Regions from separate parts of the Homo sapiens genome. Here region 1 is linked to region 2. Evidence: fine-mapped expression QTL. A gene starts in region 2. The other region holds a variant in brackets. All regions are shown on one strand. Distances are from middle to middle.

The links. PIP is the estimated chance that this variant, and not a neighbour inherited with it, causes the effect. A credible set is the group of variants that fine-mapping cannot tell apart.
Region 1: its variant is the best candidate, but not a certain one, in a credible set for the expression of DHRS3 in whole blood (INTERVAL, PIP 0.73).

Annotation. Positions count from the first base shown.
Region 1 is chr1:12,412,208-12,417,579 of GRCh38, reverse strand. VPS13D (vacuolar protein sorting 13 homolog D) reads right to left here. Exons shown (of 70, transcript NM_015378.4): 64 at 2,359-2,493; 65 at 753-920. Among named protein-coding and RNA genes, the nearest start is that of SNORA59A, 92 kb to the left of the region's middle. The variant CTCATAGACAACATTA/A (reference allele first, on the strand shown) is at 3,080.
Region 2 is chr1:12,615,869-12,621,240 of GRCh38, reverse strand. It overlaps DHRS3 (dehydrogenase/reductase 3), which reads left to right and starts at 3,031. Exons shown (of 6, transcript NM_004753.7): 1 at 3,031-4,087. The coding sequence starts at 3,893. RefSeq lists a silencer at 1,024-1,275 and enhancers at 1,511-2,142, 2,143-2,774, 2,775-3,406.

The DNA.
Region 1 (5,372 bases), 200 kb after region 2:
AGTAAATAAGCAGAGAGTACAGGTGTTTCCTCCAAATGAGTTCATTCATGAAAAAGCCAGTCTCTACAAGAAAAGTGTGTTGAGATGAAAGGAAGAGAAAAAAAGCAGAGCTCTTTGGAGGGCTGTATGTCAAATAGCAACTACCTTCAACTCGCTTCACCTTTTCCAGCTTCGCATATAATCAATTCCTGCCAGAAAATACAGAGTGAACTAAGAAAATGTCCACGAATTAAGATGTCAGTGAACAAACCAGTCAACTAGCTGCAAGATACTGGAGAATGACATCACTGTCCATCTGCTGCTGGTTTCAGGTGGCTTAAAAGGTTGTTGTCATTATAGAAGGCTGTACTTCAGCTTGGACTTTCCCTGTAAACTGTGGGCAATAACTGGTAGATCTCAGGCAGGAGAATGGCACAATCCAGTGAGTTCATTCTGGTGGCACAGTGAAAGGTGTAGGGGTCATCGTGAAAGGTCCAGGGTGCTGGGGGCTATTGCAGTGACCCAGGTAAGACATACGCAATGCCTGGACTAAGGCAGTGGCAACGGAGAGGAAGGAGGAAGAGGTATTTCAGAGGTGGACTCAGTGCACCTGGTGGCAGGTGACTGGAGGTGAGGAAAAGGCAAGGCATGTGGGCAATGAAGCAAAAGCCATGAATATAACTTTTCACAGCCCATTAACTATAAAAGAAATTGTAGTACTGTAGAGGACTCGTGAGGTTAATTATAATGGAATTTCACCTCTATTTCCTTACCTTGGCAGCAGAGTTTGATACTCCGTGTGTAACATTTCTGATGAGGCCCCCGACATTTCCATATTTTATCAGTCCAGTAACCCCTTCAGAAACATCATTCAAAAGCCCCATAGGATTGCCAAGAAAATCCACTGATCCCAGGATTCGAGCTGCCTGGCTGAGGAGTTCCTGCCAAATGGAACAGGAAGAGAAAAGTCCAATCAGCATCTACTTATATTTGCAGATACCAGTGTCCCAAGCGAAGAGCTTAGAAATCTATTTTGTTCTCCATTCTCATTACTACAAGTAACGAGATTAAAAGCTTTTAATCTTCATCAACTGCAAAATAATCTCCTGTCCTTTCAGGAGCACCACCTAAGCTTCTCCCAATACACATATCCCAATACACATACTCTTCCAAGCCAGTTAGAAGAATAAAAATAGCTATGAAACAGGAAGCATTCTTATGAGTATTTGCTACTATATACATCATACTCTCCTTTTCATCATGCCTACAAATAGAGAAGTAATCACCAGCAGGGAGAATTACAAAAGGAAAGTGAGGAAGAGAGGTAGATTTACAGTTCCTCTCATAAGCTGTGGTGTGGGTGGGGGGCCTGAAGAAGGCATGGAGAGACTTATCAAGCAAACCTCCACTGTTTCTTTCTCTGAAGCAGGGTCTCAGTCACACAGGCTGAGGTGAGGTGGCATCACCGTGGCTCACTGCAGCCTTGACCTCCTGGGCTCAAGCAGTCCTCCTACCTCAGCCTCCCGTAGCTGGGACTACAGGCAAGACCTCTACAACCAGCTAATCTTTTTTTTCTATATTTTGTAGAGATGGGGTCTCAATATGTTGCCTAGGCTGGTCTTGAACTCCTGAGCTCAAGTGATCCTCCTGCCTTGGCCTCCCACCAAGTACTCGGATTACAGGTGTGAGCCACCATGACTGGCCCCTCCACTCTTTCTGTACTTCCAATTGCCTGATCCCAGGTTCCAGTGATATCTGCTGTATCACTTTCCTTAGTTAGGTGGAAATATCACCAATTAGGATAGTCAAAAAAGGAAACGGGGAATGGAGAAAAGGAAGTGAGAATAAAATATATTTTAACTTTGAAAGCTATTAAATTTGATACGATCTTGACCTATCTATTCATTGAAGATTATGCCTTGCCTTTACTTTTTGATCTTTGCAGTCTGGATAATAAATACAAAATGGAAAATGTCCAAGGTGATTTAAAAAATTTCAAGTTCAACCCAAATGCAGGATCCCACAGACTCTAAGAACATGGGTGTAGTTGCTGAAAGAAGGCCCATGCCTGGTAAATAAAAACATTATTTTGTTATTATTAAAGCATCAACTAAACCATTAAGAGTCATGATTAATCTAGCAGGAACCCCTCAGACTAGCTCTGAGGGATGAAACTAACAGCTCATAGGTCAAATGTACTATCTCAGGATTTTCATGACACATACGGGCTTCTTGGGAAGTGACCTGACCCGTAACACAACAGAGTTGAAATGTTTAACTGGGTTCTCAATAGTAATGCCTTAGTAACCAAAATTCCCAAACAACTAAAACAAACATTCTGCTTATGCTCCAGCCAATGATTACTTCTCCAAGCCTCACCTCCTGGAAATGTTTGAGGATATCATTGATGATGAACTCCTTGGTCTCATAGGGATGTACCCGAGTGAATGGATCTAGATTAATCACAGCGTCTTCAAACCGTATCAAAGGAAACCCCAAGGTGCTTTTTAGGGCCTAATTAGGGAAGAAAGGAAATGACATACTTAAGTCATATGATGGCCTTCTGTGATACTATAATTCTAGATTCCATTAAAGCTACAAGTCATGTTAACTTTCGAATGAGGGTCAGGTTTTGATGTTTATAAATAAGGATTTTCCCTATAACTATAAAAGTAAAATACTAGGGAAAAATACATATATAGACAGACATATATCACCCAAGTCACATGTATCACACAGAAATAAACACTATCAGTTTGTGTCATAATTCCTTTTAGTCTGTTTTGTATCTGTTTGTCATGTTTTACTTTTTGACTGATGTAAACCACACACACAGAAAAGTATACTAATCAAATGTATAGTTCAAAACCCAAATGATTTTTCCCAAAGTGAACACAATAATGTAACCACCACCAGATCAGAAAGCAGACTGTTATCCCCATCTTGGAAGCAGCCCACTCACCATGAGCATGCTCCCACTCCCTCCTCCTTCCTCCCCAAAGACAACCACAGTGATGACATCTATCACTACAGGTAAGTTCTTCTGCTTTAAACTGCATATAAATGGAATCATCAGTATGCACTTCGTTGTAGGTGGCTT[CTCATAGACAACATTA/A]CATATGGGGGTTTCCTAGATTGTTGCATATAGCTGTAGTTTGTTAACGTCCATTGCCATATAAATACTCCATTGCAAGAATAAAACAATGTATTTAACCACCATTGTTGATGAAAAGTTCAAAAGTTGGGTTGTTTCAGGCTTTTTGATATTATGAATAATGCTGCTATAAACAACATTAGACATGTCTATGGCAGACTAGATAACAGGTTCTCACTCTGTTGTCCTGGCTGGAATGCAGTGGCACAATCACAGCTCACTGCGGCCTTGACCTCCTGGGCTCACGCGATCCTCCCACCTCAGCCTCCTTAGCAGGTGAGGCTACATGTGCAAACTACCATGCCCAGCTAATTTTTGTATTTTTTGTAGAGAAGGGTTTTCACCATGTTGCCCAGGCTGGTCTCAAACACCTGGGCTCAAGCAATCCGCCTGCCTTGGCATCCCAAAGTGCTGCGATTACAGCTGTGAACCACTGCTCCCTGCCTAGCTATGTCTTTTGGGGCACATTTATGCATTTTTCTTGGACATATACCTGGGAGTGGAACTGGGTCATAAAGAATGTACATGCACAATCTTAATATATTCTGCCAAACAGTTTTCCAAAGTGGTCAAACCAGTTTATGCTCCATTCAGCAGTCTACAAGATCCCTTGCTATTCTACACCCTCATCAACACTTGGTATAGATCGTTTAAAAAAAAAAAAAAAGATATTCTGGCTAGGAGTGGTGGCTCATGCCTGTAATCCCAGCACTTTGGGAAGCTGAGGTGGGAGGATCGCTTGAGGCCAGAAGTTCAAGACCAGCCTGGGTGAAGAAGTAAGACCTTGTCTCTACAAAAAGTTTAAAAATTAACTGGGCATGGTGGCGTGCGCCTGTAGTCTCAGCCATTCAGGAGGCTGGAGGAGGAGGATCACTTGGACTTTGAAGGTCAAGGCCACACTAAGCTGAGATCATGCCACTGTACTTAGCCTGGGTGACAGAGTAAGACCCTGCCTCACTCTTTCTTTCTCAAAAACAGAAAACAAAGTCTCTGTTGCCCAGGCTGGAGTACAGTGGCGGGATCTTGGCTCACTGCAGCCTGGACCTCCTGGGCTCAAGTGATCCTCCTGCCTCAGCCTCCCCCTACAGGTACATACCACCACGCCCAGCTGATTTTTTTTTTTTTTATTTTGGAGAGACAGGGTCTCACTTTGTTGCTCAACTCCTGGCCTCAAGTGATCCACCCATCTCAGCCTCCCAAAGTGCTGGGATTACCGTGGCTGACCCTGTCACTTAAAACAAACAACGACCAAAAACAAAAACAAACAAACAAACAAAAAAACACCCAGAAAATCTGAACAGTGTGTAATGGTATCTCAGCATAGTTTTGACAGATAAACTGATGGGTGTGTAATGGTACCTCAGCGTAGTCTCTTTTCAGTTGAGAAGTGAGATTAAGCAACTTTTAAATGCATAAGCCATTTGGATATCTTTTTGTGAAGTGCTTATTGAAGTATTTTGCTCATTTTTGTAGTGAGTTCATGTTTTTTATTTCTTACTGCTTTGTAGGAGTTCTTATATATTCTGTATACCAAGTCCTCTGTTGAACAGATGTGTTGCAAATATCTTCTTCCATTCTGTGACTTATCTTACTACTCTTTAAATGGTGTCTTTTAATGATCAGACAGTCTTAATTTTAAGGAAATCTGCCTTATCAATATTTTCTTATATGGTAAGAGCTTTCTGTGTCCTGGTTAAGAAATTTTTGTCTACACCAAGGTCATAAAGATATTCCCACGTTTACTTATACAAGTTTTATTGTTTTACTCTTCACACCTAGATTTTATTTATGCTCCACCTAGAATTTATTTTTATGTACGGTAGGAGGGAGTGGCCAAGATTCATTTTTTTCTGATAAATATTGAACTAAGTAATATTTACTGAAAAGGTCATCCGTTCCACTACCGCAGTATGGCATAAATGCTGTCAAAAGTCACGTGATGGTATTATACATCCATTTCTGGATTCTCTCTTCTGTTTCACTTTGCTCTGCTTTCTACTAATGCCACACTGTCTTAATTACTGTAGTCTTGTAATAATTTCTGAAATCGAATAGTGTAAGCTCTCCCCAACTTTGTACTTTTTCTCCAGGGTTACCTTAGCTGCTCTTTGCGCTTTTCAACTGCAGAGAAATTTTAGAATCAGCTTGTCAATTTGCTTCCAAAAAAACTGCTGGAATTTTCATCAGGACTGTACTGAATCTACAGATCAATTTGAGGAGCAACGACAACTTTACCGAA
Region 2 (5,372 bases):
TCCCCATGTTGCCCAGGCTGGTCTCAAACTCCTGGCCTCAGGTGATCCGCCTACCTCGGCCTCCCAAAGTGCTGGAATTACAGGCATGAGCCACCGCACCCGGCCTGGATTCTGCATTTCTAACAGGCTTCTGGTCCAGGAACCACAGGGTGAGTGTGGATCCTCGCTGCACCGGGGGAGCTGAGCCACGGAAAAAGTTAGTTCTCCCAACTGCAGCTCGCCTCTTCCCTTCAAGCCCAGAAAGCCTCCTTTCACATTTTCAGGGACAGACCTGGGATGTGAAATTTCAAACTCTGCCCTGAGTTAAATTCCAGGAGAGGGTACAAGAGCAAAGGATAAAGGCTGGGGGAGGGAGGGAAAGGCAGAGAGGACGTGTCCCTGCTGTTCTCACTGAAGCCAGGCCACACGACCCTCAGGGCCAGCCTGCTGAACTGTGCACACACACATCACCCCCACACAAGGTCTCCTTGGCCCCATCTTCCCAGGGACCTCGGGGGAGGGCAACAGAGGAGGTGACAAGTTTCTCTCTGAGCAGTTGATGCTGGGAGAAACGTGTGGCTTGCAGAGCTGCCAGTCCCACAAAAACCACATCCTGAAAGATGGACCAAGTAGAAAAAAAGGCCACCATCCACCTCAGGCCAGCTTCTGGAACTGTCAGTTCCTTTGGGGAATGTCTGACATGTTCTTTTTCCCTCTGATTTCATCCCAAACCTTTTGAGAAGCAGGTTGCGTGGCATTGCACAAGTTACTTAGATTTACTGAGCCTGTTTCCTCCTGCAATAAATGGGCACGAGCCTCCCTGGGCTGTTAAGGAAATTCAATCAGAAACTGTGTAAAGGCCCTGAGGCACTAAAGGCCAATTTGGGTTCCCGACCTCCTTCCCACCGTCTGCCCTCCATCCCAGGCACACAACCAGAGAGATGTAAGAGGGACCTAACGGTTACCCAGCCGGTCTGGCATCTGACCGGGGTGAAAATGCATCTCTGTATATGAGTTGCTTCATATCTTTTGGCTTTAGTTTCCCCAGCCATAAAAGTGTGTTTGGGGTGGGGGAGGAGGACTATGATCTTCACAAGCCCTTTTAGACTTGGGGTGTTAACCTTACATGAGAGAAATGCCTGGAAGAAAAGCATGGCTAGTTAGCAGGAACGCCGCTGGGTTGGAGGCCGGGCAGCTCGGAGGCGCAGTATCCTATCTGGGCCACCAGGCGGCTCCGAGGACAACAGATGAGCAAAGCCCGCTTTTGCAGCCTGGTTCTGTCTTCAGATCTTTCCAGGCTTCTTCGCAGGCCTGGCGGACACCAGCCGCTGCTGGGTGGGAAAGGCCTGTCACTCCCAGGCTGGAATCGCTTTCCCATTTTTACAGACCTCGAAGATGAGAGGAGGCCGTCACCACAATGGATTCCGGCCCTGGGGTCTGATGGAGACATTGGTCCGCCCTTCGGTCAGACTCTTGGGGGCGTTAGGGGGGTGGGGGGGTCTCTGCTCTGCAACCCTTAGCTGAACCCCATCCTCCACTTCTCTCCTCCCGTCTGGTCAGAGTGGGAAGAGGTTTGGATTGGGATCCCCCCTCCTGCACTTCCTGGCTGGGTAACCTGGACGATGGGATAACAGTCCCCCGATTGCAAGGTCAGGGGAAGGACTGTGTCAGAATATAGGCCCTCAGTGCAGGACAGTTGCTCATCCTAAGCCTCTCCTGCCTTTTGCTCTTCCAGTGGCTTTTCACCCAGAAGGAAGATCCTCCCCTGCAGAACCTCTCCCCAGAACTAGGTCTTTGCAGGTGACGAGGTAATCCCAGCCTCCCCTCCCCGCAGATCAGCGTTTTTCGAAGTGACTTTCTCACCAGGCGGAGCATTGAAAGTACCGATCCCAGCGCACCCAGCCCTGCTGAATCAGAATCTCTGGGGGTGAGGCCCAGGAATCGCCGTCTGAACAAGTCGCGGGCTGGAAACGGCTGCCCCAGATTACAGGGCAGCTCCCTGCTTCGCTCTCGCTCCTCCGGCCCCGGGAACGTGCAGGGGGGCGGGAGGCAAGTCCCATCAGCACTTTGAACTGGGGCTGCTTTTTAGTGACTCACCTCCCAGACTTCCTGCAACAGACAACTCTAAATAGCTCGGTCCCACCCTCCAGCAGGGGAGACATTCCGGTCGGGAAGGGCAGGAGGTTAGAAGGTGGGTGCCCCGCCAGGGCAGTCCAGGGAGACCCAAGGACAGGAGACGCTGGCTGCACAGCACAGGGGCGCACGAATAGGACGTTTTGTTTACAGGCTTTTGTTATTAAGGAAATTGGTGTCAGTCAAGGTAATTCTAGCTCAGATGAGCAATAAATATGCTCCCAGCTAATCTTGTGGGGATTTTATTGGCACTCGGAGCAGAGGTTCCTTTACCTTGACTACTCCCTCCCCTCAAAGCAAAGTCCTGCTCCCCAGCGGCTTCCCCCTAAGCATCGTGAGGCACTTGGGTCAGGCTTTTAAAAGTCCACTCTACGTGAACACAGAAGAGGTCCGGGCAAAGGTGAGGAGTGGCTTCCTGATCCTACCTGGAGGCCGAGGATGACCAAATGACCTGAAATAAAACCCTGGGTGACCTGGTTGGATCAAGGCATACGCAAGCTCCCCCGGGCCTGCTCCACACTCGGGGTGATCACCTGGCCCGCGGGCGGCCCGGGCAAGGAGGAACGTCTCGAGAAGGCAGCCGGCTCGCCGGAGTCGGTTCCAGCGTGTTCGAGTTACAGCTGCGAGCCCTCAGGGACACCGGCGGCAAGTCCCGGCTTGCAGAGAGGGGAGCCAGTCCCGGGAGAGCGCGAGTCCCGGCGAGCCCGAGTGCGCGCCTTATGCGCGCTCCCCGCGACGGCGCAGGGGGAGGGGAGGCCGCAGCAGCCACTCAGAGGAACGGTAGTGAAGCCTCCCAACAACTTTAACTGTCAATCAGACTTAATGGGGTATTGAAAAAATGGGGGAAAAAGGGGCCGCCCTCTCCGCGACGCGGCTGCCCGGGGAGCGAATGAATAGGGCCGCGCAGACCAAGGCGTCCGATCCACGCGCGCTCCACACCCGGACCCTCTCCAAGTTGGAAAGGACAAAAAGAAGGCAATAAATGCTAAAAAGGGAGAGAAGGGGAGCTGGATCGAGCGGCAACTCCCAGCCTCTGCTGGAACAGAGAGGGAGGGAGGGAGCCGGAGCGAGCGAGCGCGCGCGAGGGCGAGCGCTGCACGTAAAGAAACTGACACCCGGACCCCCCACTTCTCCTGCACGTTGCTGGCAATCAGATCGCGTTTAAGCAATTTCCTGAGCCCAAGAATAGCAATGAGTCGGGAGACTTTCGCGGGCTGAAATTGGGAGCTCCAAGCACTTTTTCCCCCCACTTTTTTTTTTTTTTTTTTTCTGGAGACGGGGTGGGGGTGGGGGCGCTACAATTTGGAATCAGCTTTTTTTTTTTTTTTTTTTTTTTTTTTAATCTTGCACTTTGAAACCGCGGGACCGAGGCAGGGTGCGCGCGTGTGGTTGGTGCCTTTTTTTTTTTTTCTTCCCCTCCCTAAACTCCTCTGTCAGTCTGTAAACATTACCTGAGAATTCCCCAGCCGAAACGGCTGCTGGGGCAAGAAACTTCTTGTTAGAACTTTCCACCTCCGGCTTCCCCCTCCACCTCTTTTACCGTCCCAACCTTAGGAGACGCTTTTTCTCCCCCAGAGGAGAATTTATCTTTTTTTTTTTTTTTTTTTTCTTTTTCTCACCCGGTGCTTTGCATTTGGGAAGAGGTGATTTCAAGAGTGGCCAGGTGGGACGCCTCTCTCCTCCTTATTCGGTTTACTATTTATTGTTCGGGGTGTTTTTTAATTCCTGTATTGCTCGGCCCGGGGAGTTTCGCCCCCTGCCCGGCTCCGCGGCGCGGAGGATGGTGTGGAAACGGCTGGGCGCGCTGGTGATGTTCCCTCTACAGATGATCTATCTGGTGGTGAAAGCAGCCGTCGGACTGGTGCTGCCCGCCAAGCTGCGGGACCTGTCGCGGGAGAACGTCCTCATCACCGGCGGCGGGAGAGGCATCGGGCGTCAGCTCGCCCGCGAGTTCGCGGAGCGCGGCGCCAGAAAGGTACCAGGCACTGCGACTCCAGGGAGTGGGGGGCCGCAGGGGCGGGGGTAAGCCCACCTGCTGCCGCTGCGGGATCCCGCGCCCGGGAGCTGAGAGTCGCCGGCCACCCCACTTCTCCGCGCCACCCACGAGTGCTGAGCTAGTCGGTTTCACCTTGTAAATTTCCCGGGCACCGGACTGTCTTTTTTGGCAGGTTCAGAGTTGATCCGCTCCTTTGGGATCGGTGGCTGGCTGACTGGCTATTCACCCCCACCCTGAAACCTAAGAGACCCACCATTTCCCACATTCCTGCCTCCCAAAGGAAGGTGTTGTGCCCCCCTCCCCCGCCTTCCCCCCTTTTTCTTGCCGCCACCCTGGTGAGTGCAGGGTGTGCGCACTCCTGGGTAGAGCTGGGAGCCGCCTGCTAGCTGGCGCCTCGTATTTTCCTTGGCAACCCGCTACCCAGCCCCAACCTGGGCGGCTGCAGCTCTGAAGACACGAGAGAGGGTACTTGGTTTGGGTTTGAAAAGGGAAGAGCGGTCTTGTATGCAGTAGTCTGGCCGGACCGACACTGAGAGGCCCAGGTGTTTGGAAAGCAGGAAAGAGGAGGCCAGGGTAAGCAGCTACTGATAAAGAGCCCTTGTTCTCACCTTCAACCCTGTCCCCTCCCCCCCAGTACACCCCCCAGGGATCCCTCCCCATTTAGCTGGAAGGTGGTGCTGCAAGGAGGGTCCTGCCCACCAAACACGGCCTTTAACTTTTTGGTGGTCCTGGCACCCCTTGCTCCAGGTTTTGGAGACCTGGTGCCAGAGTGGGGAGAGTGGGCAGGCTGTCACCCAACTCCCAGCCCAGGCCAGGCTGACTCACGCGGTGACCAGAGCCATCAGGAGAGGGAGGCAGGCCAGGCTGTCTCCAGCCAGCCCTGTGAAGAGGAAGAGCGAAAACAGGGAATTAGTTTGAAACTTAAACTGTTGTGAACTAGGGGGGTGAAAGGGCCGCAAAGCCAGCTGATCTGACATGGAGCCGCATACCTTGGGGATTAAGTAAATATGTACTGTAGAAAACCAAACCTGCATGTAATTCCAGGTTGCTTTTGTTTTGTTAAATACTGCCCTGAGATTTACAATTCCTCCGGGGTGGCTCTGACTGGGACTGAACTTTGGAGCCTGAACTATCAGCCAAAGCCGATCCGATTAACTCTTCCCTAGCCGGGCTGGCCGGAGCCTGTGGTGGCCAAGCTAGCAGGGGTCTGGCTGTCCAGGACTCCCTCTTCTCCTTGGGTGGTTTGGACAGCCGCTTGACCTTG